Regions from separate parts of the Homo sapiens genome. Here region 1 is linked to region 2. Evidence: fine-mapped expression QTL. A gene starts in region 2. The other region holds a variant in brackets. All regions are shown on one strand. Distances are from middle to middle. Region 1 overlaps MAST4 (microtubule associated serine/threonine kinase family member 4). Region 2 holds the start of MAST4 (microtubule associated serine/threonine kinase family member 4).

What was found.
Region 1: its variant is fine-mapped to the expression of MAST4 in regulatory T cells (Schmiedel 2018, PIP 0.93).

The regions. Positions count from the first base shown.
Region 1 is chr5:67,023,819-67,032,164 of GRCh38, reverse strand. All of the region lies in intron 4 of MAST4 (microtubule associated serine/threonine kinase family member 4), which reads right to left. Among named protein-coding and RNA genes, the nearest start is that of MAST4-AS1, 24 kb to the right of the region's middle. The variant A/C (reference allele first, on the strand shown) is at 3,698.
Region 2 is chr5:66,592,294-66,600,639 of GRCh38, reverse strand. MAST4 (microtubule associated serine/threonine kinase family member 4) reads right to left here and starts at 4,247. Exons shown (of 29, transcript NM_001164664.2): 1 at 3,622-4,247. The coding sequence starts at 3,984. RefSeq lists silencers at 3,502-3,651, 3,662-3,801, 4,412-4,611.

The sequences.
Region 1 (8,346 bases), 430 kb before region 2:
TAATCTAAAATGGATTACAGGTACAGCAGGATAATTCACAGAAAGATTTAGGCAACTGCAAACATTCTGAAAGAATCTATAGATTAAATGAGTTAAAGCAGCCATGGAGCAAGAGTTTTTGGAAGGGGGGCAGATTGCTTTTGACAAATAAGCACCCCTTCAACGCAAGTGACAGAAGTAGGTCACGATGAGTAACTGAATTTTCCACTGATTCATTTCCACATATATCAGAGGCAGTAAAGGACACCAGTGATCTAGTTCTCCACCTGTAAGAGCTGTACAAATTAGTTCTCTCACGAAAGAAGGTGGAATAAAAACTGACCCAGCAGGGAGAACTGCCATCCTGACCTATGAATAGGTCACTAGGCAGTAAGGTCAACAGGCCTGACAGGAATATTCACTTCAGAGAAGTCCCCCATCTTTAGAAACTCTAACAATTTAGATTGTAGGGATATGGGAACAAGATGATTCCTGCTCTTTCTCCAGCTAACAGATCAGCACAATCAGGTTTAATGGTGTTATGCCAATTAACATGTATTTTACAAATCTTCACTAAGTCTGTACGCAGTTTTTCAGTGTTTAACTTTGAATGCAAATAACCTCTACTTTAAGTGTGATAGGGAAAAATTTTGCAAATCATGTCTAAATACAAATTCATTTATTTTAGTGCAAATGGAGCATACCACTGTAAATGTCAAATAGTCACCATCCATTATGATAACAGGGCCCAGCCAATCTTTCCAACTTATTCAAAGTTCACTGCATGAATGATCCAAGCCCTCAGTCCCTAGACAGAACTTAAAATATGTCCTTATTAAAAAATTCAAGGGCAATAAATCAGGCTAAAAAGGCGACAAGAGACGACCCTCCTCTGCCATCAACTCTGGGAAATGCCCAGGGCTTTCTGCTGGACTAGCCAGGGAGCTGACAGATTCTCTGTATCTATGCAGAGGAAAGCAGCAAAGAGTAGCAATTTAAAGACTGATAATCTCCACCCACCAGGAACTGATATTAATCTATTTAATAAACGCATACATTTTAGTCTAGTCAGAGATCATCCACAGATGAAAGTAAATGCTTTTTTCACATAGGAAAAAAATATCCTATGTGGAAGTGTTATCCCCAATAGACATCAATTTTACTTTTTACAGGACAGTTAATGAGTTAGGCAGCATTATCCACACTTTAAACAAAAGTAGTCAAATTCTAGCAACTTCTGAAATACCAGCCAAAGCTACAGGAAAAAAATTTCACCATAACAGTTAATTGGCATAGAATCAACACCCATGACCTTGGCCTCTTTAGCACAATGTTCTATTGCACTAAAATACTAAATAAAAACATAGCGTTTGAGATACCCAAGGCTTTATAAAAGTAGACGTTGTAAGAGAGTGACACAAACACCCAAGATAAAAAAAGTGCTGAGGTACAGAACACTTAGAAGAGGTTAGGTGTTCCAAATATACAATGTTTGTATGGTTTTAATGTTTTAAACTAAACTCCCTTGAAACTACACAACAGAATGGAAGGGCTTAAAACCACAACCTCATTACTAATACAAAACAGATCTTATTTTAAATATCACCCCTTAGGACTCTGACCAATTTGCCCCAGGCCTGCTCTGGAATGGTGATGTACAGAAATGAAAAGGTATTTATTTTCTGAGTTAAAATGTCACTCAGATGATCTATTTTTGCCACCAGTGCTATGGTTACCTCTTCAAAACCAAAATGATGATTATGTCATTTTACCACAGCTATCTAATAAACATCAGATGGTCATCTCAGAGCTCTCATTCAGTGCTAACCTGGTTCAAGCCAAAGTTTAAAAAGAAAACAACCCTAAACCATCAAATATTGCTTGTAACACTATAAAACAAAAGAGATACGGAATACAGGTATCACACCATGCTATTACTAAATTAACTATAGAGCCTTTATGTTGTATTGCCCTGAGAAATGATTTGTTAAATAAAAACCTATAAGGATGTGAATGACCCATATGTATACAAAATATTTAGATAATAAAAATACACATTTAATTTGAAATTTGGTTTTACAATTTCCTAGATGCTCCTAAATATATATAACACTTAACAAGGAATCATGTGAAATACTAGTAAATTTCAACCTTAAACATACATTTTTATTTAATTGAAAAAATTTCATTAAACAAAATTTAAGTATATAATTTAGAGAAATTCAAATGTATAAAAATAATATATAAGTCTTAGTTTCAGAATAATTAGGATTAACTTTGTGCAAACTCGTAAACAGGACAAACTTCAAGTCCACAGCAATTTCAATAATGTTGTTAATATCAAATTATAAAGTCAACAGCAATGAATTTATATTTTCCTTTCTCCTACCTTTTTCACATGAGGAAATGTACTTTCCTTCTAAAACTCCTACTATTCCATCCACCTCACTTTCATTCTTCATGGACACAGAAATCATGCTGCCAATAAAGGTTTTCTAAGTAGCAAACACTTTTTGTTCTTATCAAAAAATAAACAAACAAAACCCAACAATCAAAACACACCATCACCTTGCCATAGAATTTTGCAACCCCAATTTCCTGCTCAATTTCTTTCAAACCTCTCCAGCCTAATTTCCTTTTTCTTAGAGATGAAATACACAGAATGGTAAGGTCCCTCAATATACTTAACTAAAAGAAACATGCTAGCAGTTTGATGACATTTCAGTAGGTATCTGATCCTCCTACAAGCAAAGATGTTTACATCCCGAATATTACTCCAAAGTAAAACAAAACATATATGCCTATGGGAAACATAAGTATAAGGATGGCTCTATGGCTTGTCTTTCCTAGAAAACACTTTTAAAATCATGTACAAATTGTCTCCCCATCCCCACCTCCATTTCTCTTGGGAATGCAGAGGGCCAGAAACCTTAGACTCTGACCTGGGTCTAAGCAGACCATAAATACTTGAAGCTGCTGGAAAATAAATATTCAACACTAATTACCTTTGGCACTCTTCATTAATCTTTATGTATATGACTTTTTTTTTTTTGAGAGAGTGTCTCGTGCTGTCGCCCAGGCTGGGTGTAGTTACGTGATCATGGCTGCCTGTAGTCTCAACCTCCCAGGCTCAAGTGATCTTCTCACTTCAGCATCTCAGGTAGCTGGCACTACAGGCACATGACACCATGCCTAGCGAATTTATTTATCTTTTATTTTTGTAGAGATGGGGTTTTGCCATGTTGCCCAGGCTGGTCTTGAACTCCTTGGCTTAAGCGATTCACCCACTTGGGCCTCCTAATGTGCTGGGATTACAGGCATAAGTCACCATGCCCGGCGGTGGATGACTCTTAATCCCCAATCTGGAACTCTCTTGCCTTCCATCCAGATCCACATATCCAGCATCTCCACTTGGGTGTGTCTATAGAAGCTCCAGTCCAATGAATCCCAAACTGAAGATATCATCTTCATCCAACGTGTCTTGCTTCTGTGTTCCCAATTTCAGTAATTGGTACCATTGTCTAACAGGCTAAAGCAGAACTATGAGCACAACCTCCACTTTAGTTCTTCTTCACTCTAATCACTCAGTTAGTCATCCAGTCTTTCAGAATCCACTTCCTGAGCGTCTCCCTTCATTCTCACGGTCACCAGCCTGCTTGTGGCATCATCACCATCTGCCCCAGAAGCCCGTGATGCTTGCTCTAACTCAGATCCTGGA[A/C]TCCTTTTTGCACAACTCCAGTTCAATCCCTCATTGCTAGGAATCTTTCCTACAGGCAAATGTGATCTTATTGTCCTGTACAAAACCCTTCAGTGGCACCTCCTACCCTCAGAGTACATTTCCTGTTTGCCACTCTAATGGAATTGCTCCTCAACTCTCACTCGAGTCTCTGTACGATAGCTATTTGTTTTGTATTGTTGTTGTTGTTGTTTTGCCTAGATTACAGTCTTCCACATTTCAATGATCTCTCACCCATCAAGGTTGTTTACTTCTTTCACAGCCCACTTTTTTGTTGTGTGTCTCCTGGATGCCCTCAAAGTTCACTATAATCCCCACCATGCATGGCTAAGAAGGAGTAAGACAGACATATACTCACACATGATACTGTAAATTCTGTTACTTCTTTGTGTTTTCCTGTCTCTACACCCAACTCCACAGCATTTCCCATAAAGCTGCAAGCGTTCAAGAAGGTAGAGACTCATCTGTCTCCTTCACCACTGCCTCTCCAGCACAATCCCTAACACATGGAAGGTGCTCAACTGATATTACTGAATTAATGAACAAATAAATGCAGAGGATGGAGAGTCAACTACACTCAGCTCCAAATTCCAAGCTTCATCTCCAAGTGAAATCTCCTCTGCATATCTTAAACTTAGAGGTGGTTATAACAACAGATCCTATCCTAAAGAGTAGCTTCCAGGAAGTAAGGATATTTCATATCTGAATTGCTTAATACAGACTAGAAGTCAAAAAATTCCTTCTTCATCCAACTCTATTCATTAACAATCCACAAACATGTTTTTAGACTGAAAACCCTTATGGTGAAAAGGCTTATTCTTATAAAATGCACAGCTTCTACTTTTTACTCTGACAGGTAAAGTTTATATTTGGAATTATCAGAAGAAAACTAGAAGGAAGCTCTGCCATCTTTGATGCAGTTCTATGGTTAGAATCAACTGTGCATTCAGGAACCATGTCTAAGACTCCATCACTAAACTATGTTTCTTTTTGCAGTTGTACCAGGAGGTATCATTAGCCCTCCAGATCCTTATGTGCACAACGTGTATTTACGTTCATCTGTGAGTGCATACAGAGATATGGTACTTGGCTAGATTCAACTTTGCTTCCACAGCATAGTTGGGAATCTGATGAGAATAAAAAACATCTGTATGAACTCTTGGTCAAGACAGATACAGTTTATTTTCTTTTTGTAATAATTATATATTTCAGTGAATTCAGTACTGCCAATAAATACAAACAGCACTCAAATCACCTTTCTTAGTACAACATTAAAGTATAAAACTGCTGTCTTCTACACTAATTCTCTGAATTGTATCATTAAAAATGTAGATAAATATCCTTACATATTTTGTAGCAATAACTCTGATATTTTACAATAATTATATAAACATGTGTTCTTGAAGATAATAATCTTATGTAAAATCATTAAAAATAGGATATATTATATCCTACCTTCCATATTTAACATGATATATTTGGATTTTTACAAATAAAGGTAACTGGCTAATTTAAACCTGATTTCTTTTCAAAGAGTTTCTCTTTCATCTGCATTAAGAATTAAAATATTAATATAAGGTGAGGCCCAAAGATAAGGAGGGAGGGAGTCTTTGCCCTCCACATCTGTGTCAGGCTCCATGAGTCATTAAAAAATGAATTGTTTTTTCCATCTTTTTAAAACAGAATTCTGTGGTCTCAAATATTCCAGAAGTGTGCCTAAGGGGCTATGATTTACAATTATTCTGTCTCATGCTGATTAGCATAAATGACCATGATAGAAAACTGTATGAAACCCTAGAAGAGTCAATAAAATGTATTGATCCATAACAACAACTAAAGGAGGAAAAATTACTTACAGTCTATGCTTCAAGCTTCCTATCTAATTTAGTAGAGGATCTTATAACCTGAAAATAATTCCATGTTTACAAAGCATTCTGCTGATGGTTGCATGAATTACATTTCACCAGCAGATAGACAAATCAATCTCTGCACTTTGCTCTACTCCCCAGTCTATCAGGCTGTGAGTCTGTACCCAAATTAACACAGGGGCATTTATGCAGCAGCTGTAAAGCCAAAAAGAATGCTCCTCTCCATTAGAAACTGTTGTGAGATGCTGTTGTGGTAGGCAAGTGGCACGGCATGTAAAAGCATTTGAGGCTTTGCCTCTTAAAATATTTTTTCCCCTCTAAAATGTAGCATCGAAGGTGGTAGGTATATAGGTAATGGGAAGAAATGTCTTCACTCCTCTGAAAAGGTTAGGATAAATTTTGCTCGCCACTTCTCTTATTCATTGTATATTTAGACCTTGATCATTAAAACACTTACAAACTCTAGGAAAGAAAACTGCTTTAAGACTAACAGATGAGAAGTGTTTTATCAATATTATTCTTTAGCTTTTTTGTATTTCAAAGATTTTACTTTCCAGCTGAGCAGCACCAATTCAAGCCTGACAAGTAGGTAGGTGCAGTACACAATCTTTATACATTCATGGCCACATTTAATTAGGGAAAAGCATGCAGTTATGACAAAGGAATGGTGAGATGCTGACAGATACAGACTCCTTTAAAGTACTACACGAAGTACAGGGGACACAGTCACATTTCCACATGTCCGGGCCTTGGGGCCCTCCAGAGGCACATGATGTGGGTGATAATTACTCTACTCCTTTCCTATAGTTCTTCTTTGTTTTAATATACTCCGGGCTTTCCTAGCTACATGCTAGCTAAACATAACTGATGAAAGCCAGCACTTTTCTGACTGGAGTGCTGACCAGGTAAATCAAAGGTTACTTTTTTTGTATAACATCCCCTCAATTATGCCAGGCCCCTGATAATCAAGTTTCATAACAAACTCCAGAGGCCACCTGGGTCAGCCTTTCACTCCACTACTAGTGTTTAACCCACTGGAGACACCAGAGAACTTCTGACCTGGAGTCTGTGGACTTCCAAGATGTCTATGAATAGAACTCACTGGGTCCACTAACTTGGCTTGTTTAAAAAAATTATTATTTTCACTAACCAGAAACTGAAATGTAACATTTCCTTCATTTATACATCTATCATCATAGTATTAGCCATGTATTTTCCATATCACATTAACAGTTGTTGCAGATATATTAAAAACTTATTTGTATTCATTATCACTTCAAAGTTACGGTAGTTACTAGACATGCCTCTAGATCTTGATATCTGATGTGCTAATAAAGAACCACATATATCACAAATATTTTAATGTGTTCATGACTCTTTCATTATAATTGGTTTCCTTTATAATATTACGTATCTTATGTTATGCATTTAAAAATGTTATTCTGAAATTACATCCATAGGCTTTACTATACTGCCAATGGAATCTTTAATTAAAAAATAAAAAAACAAAACAGGTAAGCAAGAGAGAATCCACAATGTCTTGTCAATGTCACACAACTAGTTAGTGGCAGAAACGTGAACAGAAACAAGATCTCTTTTAAAATTCTTATTTTTAATGGACAAATAATAATTGTACATATTCGTGGGGTACACAGTTATATAAAACAAGATCTCTGGTGTCATACTTCAGGGCTCATCTCATTACGCTGTTTCATTCCAGATGACCTTAGCTAAAAATAAAAAAAAAAACATGGGATCCCCAAAAGAAAGAACATAAAATGGAAGCATGTTCTAGGCACTGAATGAGGCACTGGGTTCTCACATGCATCATCCCTTTCCTTCTTACAATCTTTTGTCATCATCGGTATGTGTGGACCTATCAGTTTCTTCATTCAAGGTATTCAAAAGCAAGTTTAGATATTAAGTGTTAAAACTCAAACATCTAAGAAAAAGAAAATCAGTTCACCTATTTACCACCAAAGAGGATTATCCTCAATGACTGCAAATAGTACTTACACATTACTTAGGATGAAGATAACGCAATCCTTTCTAGAAAATAGATTTGAAAGTCTTTTGAATGTGTATATATAGATATGTATATATCTATATATACACACCCCACATTTTGAGCACAACAGTGCACCTTCCATATATATGCTTGCACGATTATGTATGTGTATACATATAGATATATATCGTGTGTGTACATATATAGCTATCTATATGTATGTGTGTGTGTGTGTGTATATATATATAGATATATATATATATCTTCCTTGTTTCAGGCTGAACAGTGTTCCATCGTGTGTGTGGATGGAATACTGTTCAGCCAGAAACAAGGAAGAAAATTCCAAGACATTCTACAACATGGATGAACCTTGAGGACATTGTGCTAAGTGAAATAAGCAAGCCACAAAAAGACAACTACTACATAAGTCCACTTAAATGAGGTACCTAGAGTAGTCAAATTCATAGAGACAGAAAGTTAGAATGGGGGTGGCCAGGGGTTGGGGGAGGGGGAATGGGGAGTTGCTCTTTAATGAGTAGAGTTTGTTTTGCAGGATGAAAGGAGTTCTGTGGCTGCACAGCACTGTAAATGTACTTAACACTACTAAAGTGTACACTTAAAAATGGCCAAGATGGTAAATTGTATGTGTACACAATTAAACATTTTTTTCTATCCTAAAAAATAATAAAAGACATGAACAGAATGAAGAAGAGATGGAGCAGTAATTGGACAAAATTTAAAAAAAAACCTGAGTA
Region 2 (8,346 bases):
TCAATGAATACACACAGGTACCCTTCAATCAAATGTGCAACTATTTTCATAGATGCCATTTTTTCTCATTCATTCAACATATATTTACTGAGCACCTACTAATATATTAACTGTACCATGCTAGGCGTACAAAGACAAAATTCCTGCCCTCGGCCAGTTTGCTGAGACAGTTACCAAACAGCACCCAAGTACTTTCTTAAAGTCATCACAGGGTGTTTTGGAAAAGGACAAGGCAGAATGCCTAAAGGCAAATCTCAGAGATGTTGTCAGGGGAACAGTCCTTCAATCTAGACAGTGTTAACTCTCAGAAATGAAGTGTGCTACCTCCTCAACACACACGGACCCCAAATTCAAAGGTTTGGGGAAAGAGCCAAAGTCAGATACAGTTTCCTTAAACAAAAGTCATGCTGTATGTCTAGCTGTCATGTGTTTGACATAAAAACTACCATTACTGTCACATTAAACTACTGTTTTTAAGACACCAAAAGCTTAAAGGGTAGACTTAAGTGTGTGAGACTTTGGAAGTTTATACAATTATTGACAGTAAGATAAAGTAAAAAATAAGTCAAACTCTGTTGACATTACTAAATACATTCAAAACAGTTTTAACAAGGTTGCCAAAGAAATTAGCACTGCCCTAATATACTAGAAGCTTGAATTTTACTGCTTTTCAAAATTTGATACAATGTTACTGTAAACACACACACACACACACACACACCCCTTTAGAAATAATCAATTTCCCAAGCTAGACATAACAATTTTAAATGAACCTCTTTCCATTTTTTGAGTTGCACACAAGCCTTTTAATGCTTTATACTCAGTGCCTTTCTACAGTATAACATTACACTCACATCGCCTTGTCACAAAATAACTGGAGACAAATAAAAACTGTTTCCCAGTTTATTCCCATTTTATGAGTATAAGCTAAGTAGACATAGCCTCCGATTCTCTGACAGTAGGTAGCATATAAGTTATGCAGCAATAAAATAACAGGACAACCCAACTTTGTATTCCTATTTTGCAAAATGTCATCAAAAGTGACCTTAAAAAATTAATATTTACTTACACTTACTTGGCATTTGATGCTATATGTTAGCTACTGTGCTAGGATTAAATTAGATAGCATGTGTAAAATGCCTAACTCTAATGCTATTATTCCCATTAAAGGTAGGAAAGCTGAGATTTGCAGAAGTTGAATGGTCCACAATCCCACAACTGGTCAAGGTGGCAGAGCTAGAAATCAAACCCACGTCTTTCCACTAAAATGAGTGTTTATCACCCAGCATTCCCGAATCCTCTGGTGTGCTTTTTGAGGAGAGGGGCAAAAGAGGTTTCATTTGCTCCTTAAAGAGGCCCACAACCCCACAAACAGTGAAGGTGAACACCCCCCTGCCCCATACCATCACCAGTGTAAGAACCAGAAAATGCACACTGGACTTCAACCCCTTTCACAAAGATTATCACTCCTCTACTCCATAAGAGGGGAAAAAACTACATGGTTTGGTTTTCGTTTCACTTTAAAATTCTCAGAGCAAGTCAAGATTTTGCTCCTGGGAAATTTCCAGCATCCCATGCCGCAGGTTAAGTTACATAATAAATTGCAATACTGTATCAGTTTACACGCAATTCTGAGATTTCACAAATAGTGACCCATGTTATTTAATCATTCCACTTTCCAAAATGTGTTTCAATCAACCAGTTCTCACTGCATTGCCTGTGAAATAAGTTATCATTATATCCACTTCCAACAAAGCAAAGCACTGTCACCCTGAGGCCAGGCAATAAATCAGCGACAGAATGGGGATCAGAAGTTCCCCGACAACATCCCTCCCCACCACCTGCAAGACCATGTCACTTACCATGGAGCACCCTCCTAGCTAAATAGAAAACATAAAGCAACTAACTACTCTCCACCAGCGGCAATACTAAATTAGGAACTATTGGTGAATCATTAAGTTAGGGTACACCCCCAGCTTCCCAATGCCAGTGTGCTCATCTGTAGAAGTGGAGGCAGAAGTTAAGGGGCAAACACGTGGCACATGCCCCGCACCTTGAAAGGGAGATGTAATCAGCGAGGAAGGCTGGGGCAGTACAGGGTTTGATCATCTCCGCTAGGATGTAGCTCTGCGGTGGGTGAGGAACTCAGCAAACTCCTGACATCCCGCCGCTAGGATCGATTTGGAGCTATGGATTCATCTGAAATTCCTGATTCGAAACAGGAGTATGAGAGTGAAAATGAAATTTACCTTGAAGCTCCTCCTTTTACAGATTATGGAACTGAACCTCAGAGGAGTGAAATGATATACCCAAGGTCTCACCACTCAGTAGCAGAGGCAGTTCTAGAAAGCAGGCCTCCAGACCCTTATCCAGGATCCTTGCAATGGGGGCTTAGGGGAATTAGGGAATGGGTCATGGTTACTGCAAGTGGCTTGGCCAAGAACCAGCTAAGCAGCTAAGGCTTGTTCCATCTCTGCCAAGCTAGGACTCGCCTCCTCTCAACCTTGTGCCACATCCAGTTTTTGCTTCCAGGCTGGGGGCCTCTGATTGCTTACTCTAAGGGACAAAGGCAATTATTTACTAAAGCTAACCCCATCCAAGATGAGGAAAATACAACACTGGCACTCAGGAATTAATTTCACAATAAGTCTATGTTAAGGTGATGTTTTATTTGTGGCCCTGCCTGATCAAGATGACTTCCCCACAAGAAACGTCCAAAGCAAACAATCTTTTTTTTTTTTAAACTGAGTCTGGCTCTGAGACGTGAAGAATTGTACACTTCTTTAACTGTCCTCCAAAAGCAGAAAATAAGCCGGACAGAGCAGCCAGAAGGACACCAGAGTCCTATGCTCAGTGTGTCAGGAAGCGACCCACAAGTTCTGGAGGAACATCCTTCCAGGAAACTGGGCAGATACAGATCCCCCACCCCGCTCCGCCCCGCAAAAGGTAAGACGATCTGTACTCGGTTTGGTGACAAGCGTTCATCTGGACAAGCTGGAAACAAGTCTGAACGGGAGCTGCAGGCGCGCACGCCAGCGCCACCGAGGGAGCGCGGGGAGTCCTCTTCTCCCAGAGGACCGACGCTGCGGGGACGCGCCAAAACCACCCGCGGGCGATCCCAGGGGGCTGGCGCCACTGAAACCTCCGCAGGCAACTCCGCGGCTACCGCTGCCCCCCACCCTACTCCTGCCTCTTACCCCCAAGGCACCATTTCTCCCCCTCAACTCCCTGCCCCTCGGCCCAAGCGCTTCGGTGGGAAACAACGCCCACTTTGGAGAATCAGAGGTGAGTTGTGGGGACACGCCAGATGTCCAGATCGCATCCTTTCACAGATCAACCAAGTCAGATACAAACACGAAGGAGTTTGCTTCTCTGACATTTTAAAAACACACCATCAGGCAGCACACTGAGACACACACACGGGGGTAACAGCCACAGGGAAGTCAATAACCCACAGGGGGGCTCCTAACTATCGTTGTCCCGTGCTCGGGGCAGAGCGCTTGGGGTCCCTCCCTATCTCCAGGCCACAGCGCTCTCCTGCCCACTGCCTGTGCGCAGGATGGGAAACTACGGTCGCCCGGCTGCCGGAACCCAGAGTGGGCAAGCTGGGGAAAGGCCCACCTCCTCGTCCTGCTCCTCCTGGGACGCGCTGCTGCCCCGGGGCGCGGGCGGCACAGCTCCTCCGGGAAGCGGCGGCGGCAGCGCAAGGACTCCGCGCTCCAGCAGCACGCTTGCCGGAGCCCACGCGGCGGGCGCCCGGGCGCCCAGGGTGCCTCCCAACGGCGGCGGCGGCGGCGGCTGATGCTCTCTGGAGAAGCCGCCGGGCTCCCCTTCCTCCGACAGAGTTTCTGAGCCCGAGGAGGACTCGGCCGAGGAAGCACCCGGAGAGGACGCGGCGACCAGCGCAGAGGCTGGAGTCCGGCTGCCGTGGCCACTGCAGCCGCGGGGCACCGGCTCTGGCGCCTCCGAAACTTTCTCCCCCATTTCCCTGTCTGGCCCAAAGTGCCTCCCGAGCGGCGGGGGCGCGGCGCGCACTCAGCGCCTCCCGGGGAAGACGCGGGCTCCTGGGCTCAGGCTCACTGGCACTGCCGCTCCCGGGCTGCAGGGAGCCCCGCCAGCGACTACATGGCAGTGACGGGGCCGCAGGAGCCCGCTGCTAAGTTCACAGCCGCCCGGGCCCGGCCGCAAACGGAGGCTCCCGCGCGCGGGGACATGCCCGCTCGGGTCCGCGATCTGCGCTCCACTGTGCTCCCGCGCTGCACCCGAGCCGCGGGTACTGCGGCTTCTCCTTGCAAAACCTGCCTCCGGGACGGAGCAAGGAGACGGGCAGCCCGCAGAGCCAATGGCAGGGCAGGCGCGCTGGTGGGCGGAGGCTGCGACGCCTCCGGCCATGAGGGCCTCAGGTAGGGGAGGCGGGGCCCGGGCGCGGGCCGTGGTCCCGCTGGAGCGCCTGGGCGCAGGGGACAGGGACCAGGCGGGGGTCCCCGGAGGGTGGGGGCGGAGCCCAGAATCGGAGCCAAGGGCTGAGACTCCGAACTTAGCGGGGGAGTGGCTGACCGTCCTTGGGACGTCAGAGGGAGACGGCGAGCGGATGGTGAGACCTTGGAGAAGAACTGGACTTTGTCTCCAAAAAGTGGAATCAAGAAAACGGACAAGAAGGAGGGCTCTATAGGGAAAAAAGGAACCACACACACACAGTCACCCACGCACACGGACTCACCAGCGTGTTGGAGGAAAAGGACAGAAACTTCGTGGTATAGTGAGCGGACCCAAAGGGGAGTGACCTCTAATCTCTGCTTTTCCGTTTAAGCTCTTTGGGCCTCAGTTTCCTCAACTGTAAATGGCTACATTACTACTGGTCTTGGCAGGCTTAGAGCAAATATATATAATGCATCAGCAAAGTGCCTGGCTTGGATACACGGAGCGTTTTTAAAAGACTATTTCCTGTCTTTATTTCTGTTTGTAAACTAAAAAGTTAAGTCTGAGACTTGAACCTTTTGATAGGGAGGAAGATAAAAAAGTATGTCCTTGTATTTAATTAGGACCAAGCTCTGTAGTCCTACTCAAATTGTCTGTCTCGGTATGATCAGCTAAGCAGAGGATGAAAAGGATTCACTTTCCAATGTACATTCTCCTAGCCCTGGGTTGTAAACCAACAGGATACAGGACAGGTTGCTTCATTTTCCTTACCTCTAAGAACTAGGAGAAAGAACTTTCACTAAAGGTACCAATAGAGTACCCTTAAGTCCTTCCCTGGGGCTGGAGGATGCTGCCTGTCCGGTGACTGGAATTTCCTTGGAAGCCAGCACTCAGCTCAGCAGTGGGAAATAAATGATTCCTCTCTTGCCTTCAGCTCTAGTCCCATTCTGAGCTCTGGCACAGTGACCTGGGATGTAAATTCAACCGCCTCAGTTCCATGTACGTTGATGGAGATGTGTGCCAGGTGCAGGGGATACAAAGATTAATAAGTCAGGTCCCCTGCCCTTGAGCAGCTTATGGTCAAGCGAGAGATTGATACTGCATAATATAGCTCCCTTATCCATTTTAGAAGCTGTGATAAGTGATACAGGAAAAATGTGTGAGGGAGAAGAGGAAAGAGTTACAGAAAAACAGTAGCAGGTCCTTGAGCATCTTAGATTTCTCTTTGTCAGAGCAGCCTTGCCAAAGGTCCTTAAAAACTGGAGGACCCTAATTGAAAGCCCCTTCAGCTAATGAGCCTTTCATGCTATCATGGTATTTACAAGTGATACATCACACAGAGGGCTTCATCATATTGGACAGCAACCTTTGTCCTGATCAGTTTCCTCCCCTCAAGATGAAGGGGAAGGAAATACGTTTTGTCTATCTTGCTTCAGACAGCCATACTGCAAAATGGACTCCGGTTGTCAGGCTTTCATTGTGACGCTTCTGAATTATTCACAGGGATATGAAGACCTGCTGAGGCAAAAGGTCAAGTCTAGTGGCAGCTAAGTTGTGAGAGCAAGGCTAAAGAGAGAGCACAGTGGGGCAGTCCGAATTTAACCCGGGCCTCACAATTACTTTCCTATTTAGGAGTTCTGGTCTTTATCTGAGCCCCTACGTGGTTGATTCACCAGAGCTGAACTGAAATGACAATTTCAGCCATGCACATAAAAGAAGAGGAGGAGTTGCTTTTCAGTACATAGGGAAATAAGAAGCAAGGTCATGGTCTGAATAACCGACAGCAAGAATGACAATAGTTATTATCGCCTGAGTCCTCTGCATCTTCTCTGGATGGTCTCATTTAATCCTGGCAACAACCTTGTGAAACAGATTCTATTAGTCCCACTTTATTGATTAAGAAACTGAGGATCTGCAAAGGTCACACAGCAAGTAAGCAGTGGAGCTGTGGTTTGGAACCCAGCAACCTGATTCCAAGGCTGTCTTTCCTAGGCATTCTAGTATTAATACAATGCCACTCAAAACAGACAGCTTTTTCAAATATATATATATACCATATTATAAATATCCATAGGGAAGAAACTTTGCTGTATTGATTCAATCTGTAAAAGAAAATACTTGAGGAACATATTTGTTTTTCCCACAAACATTTTTAAGGTACTTACTATGTGCCAGGCAGGATTTTAAGCACTTTAAAATGTTAATATACTCAATTCTCATACCAGCCCAATGAGGTAGCTACTATTACTATTCTCATATCATATTTGTGAAATATGTGAAAACTATGACAGAGAAGTTAAGTAATTCAGCTAAAGTCACACAGCTAGCAAATGATGGACCCAGGATTCAGATTTGAACATTTGGTCCCAGCATTTGTGCTCTTAACCTCTACAGATCAAAGTCAAGTACTAGATCAGTATTTCTTGAACTTTTTAAACCTGAACCTCAAATAAGAAATATATTTCACACTGGAACTCATGACACATATGCATATGTACAAATACAAATAAAATGTCATGAGACAATACTTACCCATCCTTTAAGCAATGCACCCTGAAATTTATATTTTATTAAAAATAAAGATGCTAGTTGTAGTCCACTAAATAGATTTCAAACTCTACTTCAAAACTTGCAGTTTAAAAGTGTACTTGTTCATCTCCACACCCACCTGTGAGGGAAATAAACTGTAGTTCAGGCTAAGAGTATCCAGACCAGAACATGGCCAACTCAAAGGATAACTATAAATAGAAGATGACTAGAGAGTCAGGATAGTTCCCCAAAAGTATCCTAGTTAGACCCATGGATAAATTTCCTGGGGTGTGGCCAAACCACTGGACCAAAATCAGTTTTGATTTATCCAAATCCTGAAGTTCAACTTTCCTATCTTGTTAATTAAATAATAAATATTTTCCTCAGTGGTCAGAAATGTGCCCCCTCCAAGAGACCTTTTTATAAACGTGTCTAGTGTTGGAGACTGTGGGACCAGAGGTGAGTGTGAAAGCACAGGTTTTTCTCTGCAGTGTCACCATAGGCAGGAGCCAGAAAAATAAAAACAACATCATCACAACTCCTGAAAAGCCAATAGTGTAGCGTCACATGACAGAACCAGACTAGCCTAAGGCGAGGAGAGACAAGGTCGGTGTACTCCAAGGTAATCAGTTTCCATGTGTTCTGTGAGACATGCTCACAAAGTATTTGATTCAAGGACAGCACCCCTGGGAATCCGGTAAGTATTCATTGTGTTTTGTGATTGAATGCCCCCCTCCGGTTTCTATGTTTTTCTCAGAAGTGACGGGAGACATTTCCTCTGGGAGTCTCTGTTGTCTCTGCCAGTCTCTGCTGTGTAGGTGAGGCCTATTGTGAATGTCAAGCTGTCTCTGCCAGATGGACGATGTTCCAGCAAAGTCATCATACCCTTAAGTCTACTCCCAGTGTCATGACCTTTCTCCCAAACATCAGGTTGGGAGGAAGGTCAGTTGTCCTTCTTTCTTACATAGATGAAATTAGAACATCATGAACTCAGAACGAACATTTTTGCAAAATCACAAGTAAATATGTTTCTATTTAATGCACTAAAAATCCTAAATATCAGATTATCTTTGAATTATGAAGATGATTATATTATCCAACTTTGGTAGACTATTTTTATTATCATTGTTAATGATGGATTTGCCTACTCCCCTATGACTAATAAAGTACAATTTCAAGACAAAGTAAGCATCTATCAAAAGGTGTCTGTTGAGATGCGCTAGATTGGGGTTTCCGATTTATACCCGAGGGTGTAGCATGATACAGACCATGGAAGTTTCTGATCATCCAGCCAGGAGGAAAAGCCCGTGGAGCCTCTCAAGCTTTTGTTTGTATCTAAGGAAAGGAACGAGTGTTACTATACAAAGCTCCAGAAGATAAGTCAAAGGATTTTTAAAT